Linked DNA regions of Homo sapiens. The protein of the gene in region 2 purifies or fractionates together with the protein of the main gene of each other region. This does not show direct contact. Each region holds a gene or a part of one and is shown on either strand. Other genes may lie near its edges.

Region 1 (3,500 bases), on a different chromosome or scaffold from region 2:
CTTGCCTCAAACTCCTGCTCAACTGATTCTAGATCCTTGCTGTTTCCATCATACCATTGTACCTCTATTCAGATTTTCAAACAGGAGCTTGCTGAGAGCCATAAATAAAGAAATATGTTTAAGAATGATAATTTGGGGAGACTAACCTGTAGGAAAATGTCCTCCAAAGAAGACGTTGAACAGCTCTTCTGGAGTGATGTCAGCTTCAAAATCCCTGTAATAATTATAAGGTCTGGCTCGAGGGGCAGTGAAAGTCACCTGTTCATCTCCGTATTCATCATAGCGAAGTCTCTTATCAGGATTGCTCAGGACTGCAAATGCATTTCCTATTGCTGCAACCAACAAGAACCAGCACATGAGGACACAGTCTTTGCTATGGCTGAGAGTGATCACAGCAGCAGTGACAAAGAGCCTAGAGGTGACTCGTGCTGGACAACTTCGCAGGGGCCCAAGAAGAGATGCTTGGGCCTAGAAAGTTCTCCACAGTGCTTGCCCTTCAGGTTTTCCCTGATCGCCAGAAACAACAACATTGGAATCACAGGAATTAAGAACTTCTGCTGCAGTGAGTTAACTCCCAATCAACAGTCCTGTAGTCATCCCAGCTGTCCTAGAAGTTAGGAAGCCCCCCTCAGTTCGGGTTCCCAGTCACCACAAGTCCCAGGCATGTTGGGGAAATGTTCTCCAACTGGTCAGCACTCTCATTCATAAAAAATGTGTTCTGGCCAGGTGCAGTGGCTCATGCCTATAATCCCAGCACTTTGGGAGGTTGCAGTGAGCCGAGATCATGCCACTGCCTTCCAGGCTGGGCAACAGAGTGAGACTTTGTCACACACACACACACACAAAGAGTGCTCTTTACTTTAAAAAAAATTTTTTTAGAGATAGGGTCTTGCTGCATTGCCCAGACTAGTCTCAGATTCCTGGCCTCTAGTGATCCTCTCACCTTGGCCTCCAAAAGTTTGGGATTATAGGTGTGAGCCCTGCATCTGGCCAAAAAAGTGTTCTTATTTCACTTGAGTGCAATAGTTTATGTTGGAAACAGTTCACACATCAGTAGTGATATTTTAACTTGTAGTCCAAAAAATTTCCTGAATTCTCTTCTGAAACAATCTTAGTAGAAACCTTCCTGCTTGACTAAAAACAAAGTCTTCATCATAGTCTTATTTCAGTTTACTTTAGACAAATATTTTCTGAAATTAAGAAATGTATTTCCAATGTCTCAAGGAGGGTTCAAAGGCTGAATAGTTACATATGTTTACCAACATGTCTCCTTTCTATGTACAGACGTGCAAACCTTGCCCAATTTCATTTAAACATACAATCCGTAGCACCAATCAATAGAAACCTCAAAAAAAAGAAATCTTTTAAGGCATCCCGCACTCCCTACCTGTAATTCAGTCAACACTGTCAGAAACACAGAAAGAGTATTTCTTCATGATTCTTTTACCTGGGGAATTGTTAAATGTTTGCCTTGCCACTCTGTTACCTACAACTCTATATATACATATGTACATATGTATTGTAATAATTATACATTTATTTTGCTGAACCATTTGAAAATAGGCCACAGATATTACGTCACCTTGCCCCTAAATACCTCAACATATATCTCCCAAGAAGAAAGACATTCTCCTATGTGATCACAACACCATTATCACAGCTAAGAAAATTAACATCAGTCCATTATCATCCAATGCATCCATGCAAGATCAAGTATAGCATTTAGTTTCTTTTAAGCTAAAACTGTCCCACCTTTTTTGTTTTTCATTATGTTAAATTTTTTGGAAGAACAGATCAGTATTCTTGTAGAATGTTTCATATTGATTGTTTCCTCATTATTAGATTCAGGTCAAACATTTTGGCAAGAATACCCCATAGGCGACAACTACCTAGCACTCAATGGTTTTAGCATTCACTGAAGATCTTTGCCTGTAACAATGACTTGGAGTGCAGTGGTGCAATCACAGCTCACTGCAGCCTTGACCTCTGGCTCAAGCAATCCTCCCACCTCAGCCTCCCAAAGTGCTAGGATTACAGGTGTGAGCCACTGCGCTCAGCCTGAAGAATATATTTCTTAAAATATCATGGAGGATGGGCACAGTGGCTCACGCCTGTAATATCAGCACTTTGGAAGGCCTAGGCGGGCAGATTACTTGAGCTCAGGAGTTTGAGATCAGCCAGAGCAACATGGCAAAACCCCATCTCCACAAAACATACAAAAATTAGCCGGGCATGGTGGTGCTCACCTGTAGTCCCAGCTACTCAGGAGGCTGAGGTGGGAGGATCACTTGAGCCCGGGAGGTGGAGGTTGCAGTGAGCTGAGATGTCACCACTGCACTCCAGCCTAGGTAAAATCAAGTGGGAGCTATGCTGATTATCACTATTTAAGAGGTGTGGCAGGGGGAAAAAACCCTCCTTATGGCCTTATAAAACAACTATGGGGAAGGCTAAAAGCAACTTATTATGACCAACCATGACAAGGGCACCATTGAGCATTGGTTCAGGATCAGACCTTTGAAAGCATCTGTTGCTCCAGGAGCACAGTTCTTGTCAGGGTGAAATTTCAGGGCGAGTTTTCTGTAAGCTTTCTTAAGCTCTTCGTCACTAGCATCTCGAGAAACTCCCAGAATTTCATAGTAATTTCTGCATTTCTTGATCCTAAAAAAAATCACAAGCATGTATGTCTATAAAGGTCCCTTTTGTACAACTAATTGCAAGATAATACATCGATCCTACCTCCAATCTGTGGGACCCAAAACAAACCTATAAGAAAATTAGTGCACACGTTAATGAAACATTCAAATTCATTAACAATGTCCTTCTCCCACCCAGAACTTAATGCCTTTCAAAGTACTTTTACATCTACTATTTACTCTTCCTATATCCCTGCAAGTGAGTAGAACAAGTATGCTAATTGTTACACCAAGGTTCAGGCTAAGATCCTGAGAGATGAACTACAGGACAGCAAAGCCAGAAGAAACAGTTAATCACCCTGTTTGTTTATAATTTTTTCTCTCTTTTTCCTATGGCTATCTTTTTAAACTGTATTTTTTGCTTTTTTTTTTTTTTTTTTTTGAGACGTAGTCTTGCTCTTGTTGCCTGGGCTGGAGTGCAATGGCGCGATCTCAGCTCACTGCAACCTCTGCCTCCCAGGTTCAAGCAATTCTCCTGCCTCAGCCTCCCGAGTAGCTGAGATTACAGGGATGCGCCACCAGCCCTGGCTAATGTTGGTATTTTTAGTAGAGATGGGGTTTCACCATATTGGTTAGGCTGGTCTCAAACTCCTGACCTTGTGATCTGCCCACCTTGGCCTCCCAAAGTGCTGGGATTACAGGTGTGAGCCACCGTGCCTGGCTAAACTGTGTTTTTAAAAAGTTAACATACACATGATAGAAGAAAAAGAGCCAACAGAACTAAAGTTTATACAGTAAAAATTTTCCTGCTTCATCATTCCCTGTCCCCCAGTTTCCCACCACAGGGATAACCATCATTAGAAGTTT
Region 2 (3,500 bases):
TATCCTTCATAACAAACCAGTAAATGTAAGTAAAGGGCCTTCCTGAGTTTCGTGAGCCATTGTTGCAAATTATCAAACCCACAGAAAGGATCCTAGGAATCCCCAATTGATGGCCAGTTGGTCAGAAGTGCAGGAGTTGCACTTGGCATCTGAAGAGGGGACAGTCTTGTGGAATGGAGCCCTTTGACTTGTGGGATTTGATGCTAACTCCAGGTGGATAGTGTCAGAATGGGATTACATTGTAGTACACCCAGCTTGTGTCCGGAGAGTTAGAGAATTGCTTGATGTGGGAAAATATCCACACATTTGCTGTCAGGAGTATTGTGTGAGTAGAGAGAAATAGTGTTTTCGCAGAGAGGGGCAAATGGAGCGAGTCCAGTGCTAGGCTCTGAGAGATATTGCCCATGAAAGAACCAGCATGGTGCCCTGCACAAGGGAGGTGCTCAGGCGAGTTGGTTCCTGCTCCAGGGGGAGCTCAGAAGACACGGTGCCTGTTGTCATTGCCTGTTCTGCAGAGGCATGGAGCCCTGTTGGGGAGAAGGCTTGTTTCATCTAGCACCCCCACGCCACCATCCCCAGAAGGCTGACTGGCATTTCTGTCCACAGCACATTCAGGAATTCACCAATGAGACATGGCAGGCGCGTACTGGAGAGCCACTGCCCGATCACCTAGTCCTGCTTATGTGGTCCCTCATCGTGTCTCTGTATCCCCTGGGAGGCCTCTTTGGAGCACTGCTTGCAGGTCCCTTGGCCATCACGCTGGGAAGGTAAGTGCTTCCTGCATACCCCCTGAATGCCCTTTAATGAGGAGCGCTGCAGCCTGCAGGCTGAGGAATGTGGAAGAAGGAAGAGGCCCGGCAAGCTCCAGGCCCAGATCAGCTCCTCATCCAGCCTCTTACTCTGCCTGGAGTTTCACCTTGCAAGACACGTCTTCAAGGGTTTGGTAGAGCAAACAGTCCTGTGCTACAAGAGAGGGAGGACTCCTGGTTTCTAATTTCATGTCTGCCAACAAGTGCTAACTGACCTTAAACAAGTTATTTTCTTCCTGGGCCTCACTCTCCTCCTGCATATCTAATGCAGTTCTTGGATTTCAAAGAATACAAACTGACTCTGATAACAGAATCAAAAATGTAATAGCTGGAAGGATAGTGGGGCAGCTCATAGCATGAAAGAAGTTCTTAGAAGCCAGGCCTGGTGAGGCATGGTGGCTCACCCACATAATCCCAGCATTTTGGGAGGCTGAGCGGGGCAGATTGCATGGGTCCAGGAGTTTGAGAACAGTCTGGGCAATATGGTGAGACCCCATCTCTACAAAAAATTAGCTAGGAATGGGCTGGGTGCAGTGGCTCATGCCCGTAATCCCAGCACTTTGAGAGGCTGAGGCGGGTGGATCACCTAAGGTCAGGAGCTTGAGACCAGCCTGACCAACATGGTGAAAACCTATCTCTACTAAACATACAAAAATTAGCAGGGCGTGGTGGCACACGCCTGTAGTCCTGGCTACTCGGGAGGCTGAGGCAGGAGAATCGCTTGACCCCGCAAGGCAGAGGTTGCAGTGAGCCAAGATCATACCACTGCACTCCAGCCTGGGCAACAGAACAAGACTCCATCTCAAAAAAAAAAAAATTAACCAGTTATGGTGGTGCATGCCTGTAGACTCAGCTACTCGGGAGGTTGCGGCAGGAAGATCACCTGAGCCCAGGAGATCGAGGCTGCAGTGAGCCTTGATTGTGCCACTGTACTCCAGCCTGGATGACACAGTGAGCCCCTGTCTCAAAACAGCTCGCTTACTAGCAATCTTAGTCTATTTTTGTTGCCATAACAAAATAACTGAGACTGGATAATGTATAAAGAACAGAAATTTACTTTCTCACAGTTCTGGAGGCTGTGAAGTCCAAGATCAAGGCACCCAGCAGATGCAGTGTACCGTGAGGGCTACTCTTTCTGCTTCCAAGATGGTGCCTTGTCCCTGTGTCCTCACATGGCAGAAAGGGCGAATGCTGTGTCCTCATATGGTGAAAGACAAAAGGGCAAAAGGCAAAAAGAGCCTGCCTAGTTCCCTCCAGCCCTTTTATAAAGCACTAGTCCCATCAATGAAGGTGGAGTTCTCATGGCCTAATCAATCTCCCAAAGGCCCACCTCTAAATACCGTTGCATTGGAAATTAAATTTCAACCTGAATTTTGGAAGAGACACAAACCTTCAAACCATAGCACCAGCACTGGATCAGCAAGACTGGATTAGACCACTGGGCTCATATCTGCACCGTGGGGAGTAGGGGAACAGTCGCAAACAAAAGTGGGGCTCTTCCCACGAAGAAGACGGAGGTAATAACTATTGCGCGGCTATCTCATGATACCTGGTACAGTTGGCATAAGCATGAAAGGAAGAAATTAAAAATTCAAGTTTAGCATGTATGCCTATTGTAATTAAAGCAAATGTCTGTTCCCCTCCCCAGGACAGGGGGATGTAGTTCTTCCATTCAGCAGCTGACTGGAGCTCTGAAATGTGTTGCCATTGTTGGGTGCTCAGGGTTGGTTGTGTAGGGGAACACAACCATCTTGGTGACAGGAAGCCCCTATTGTTCAGCCCATGTGCATTTTCTGTCCTTGCTACCCTATTTGCTTTGTTTATCACCCAACTGAGTAAGCACCGGGATGGTCAAGGAAGGCAGTTGAATGCCATCTACAGATAGAGGGTCATATTGTCCATCTGCTTATGAAGAGCCTCTTTGTAGTGGGAGGGGGCTTCTGATAAGCAGAAATATATTTATGTATATTTTCACGTTCTGGGCTAATTTTATTTTATTTTTTATTTTTTATTTTTTATTTTTTTTGAGACGGAGTTTCGCTCTTGTTGCCCAGGCTGGAGTGCAATGGCGTGATCTCGGCTCACCGCAACCTCCGCCTCCCGGGTTCCAGTGATTTTCCTGCCTCAGCCTCCCGAGTAGTTGGAATTACAGGCGCCCACCAGCACGCCTGGCTAATTTTGTATTTTTAGTAGAGATGGGGTTTCTCCATGTTGGTCAGGCTGGTCTCGAACTCCTGACCTCAGGTGATTCACCCACCTCAGCCTCCCAAAGTGCCGGGATTACAGGCGTGAGCCACCGCGCCCAGCTATATTTTCAGGTTCTGGGCTAATTTTAAAAGATTCACCCACTTAGTGTTTCCCCGTACCTCCTTGAAACCAGTCTTCAAATTCTGCTTCATCTAAGACTTTTTGTCCAACCAAATCTTTTGAAAAAGGGACAGGCCGGGTGCAGTGGCTCCTGCCTGTAATCCCAGCACTTTGGTAGACTGAGGCGGGGGGATCACCTGAGGTCAGGAGTTCAAGACCAGCCTGGCCAACATGGTGAAACCCCATCTCTACTAAAACTACAAAAATTAGACGGGCATGGTGGTGGAGACGCCTGTAATCCCAGCTACTCGGCAGGCTGAGGCAGGAGAATCACCTGAACCCAGGAGGCAGAGGTTGCAGTGAGCCAAGATTGTGCCACTGCAC

The links.
Region 1: the proteins of SLC2A11 (region 2) and DNAJC18 purify together in Homo sapiens (affinity purification with mass spectrometry; one large-scale study listed by BioGRID and IntAct). This does not show direct contact.

Annotation. Positions count from the first base shown.
Region 1 is NC_000005.10:139,426,026-139,429,525, forward strand, and holds part of DNAJC18 (dnaJ homolog subfamily C member 18), read right to left. Parts: intron 2,659-3,500; coding exon 2,513-2,658; intron 333-2,512; coding exon 147-332; intron 1-146.
Region 2 is NC_000022.11:23,867,875-23,871,374, forward strand, and holds part of SLC2A11 (solute carrier family 2, facilitated glucose transporter member 11), read left to right. Parts: intron 1-606; coding exon 607-767; intron 768-3,500. UniProt on the Homo sapiens protein: Facilitative glucose transporter.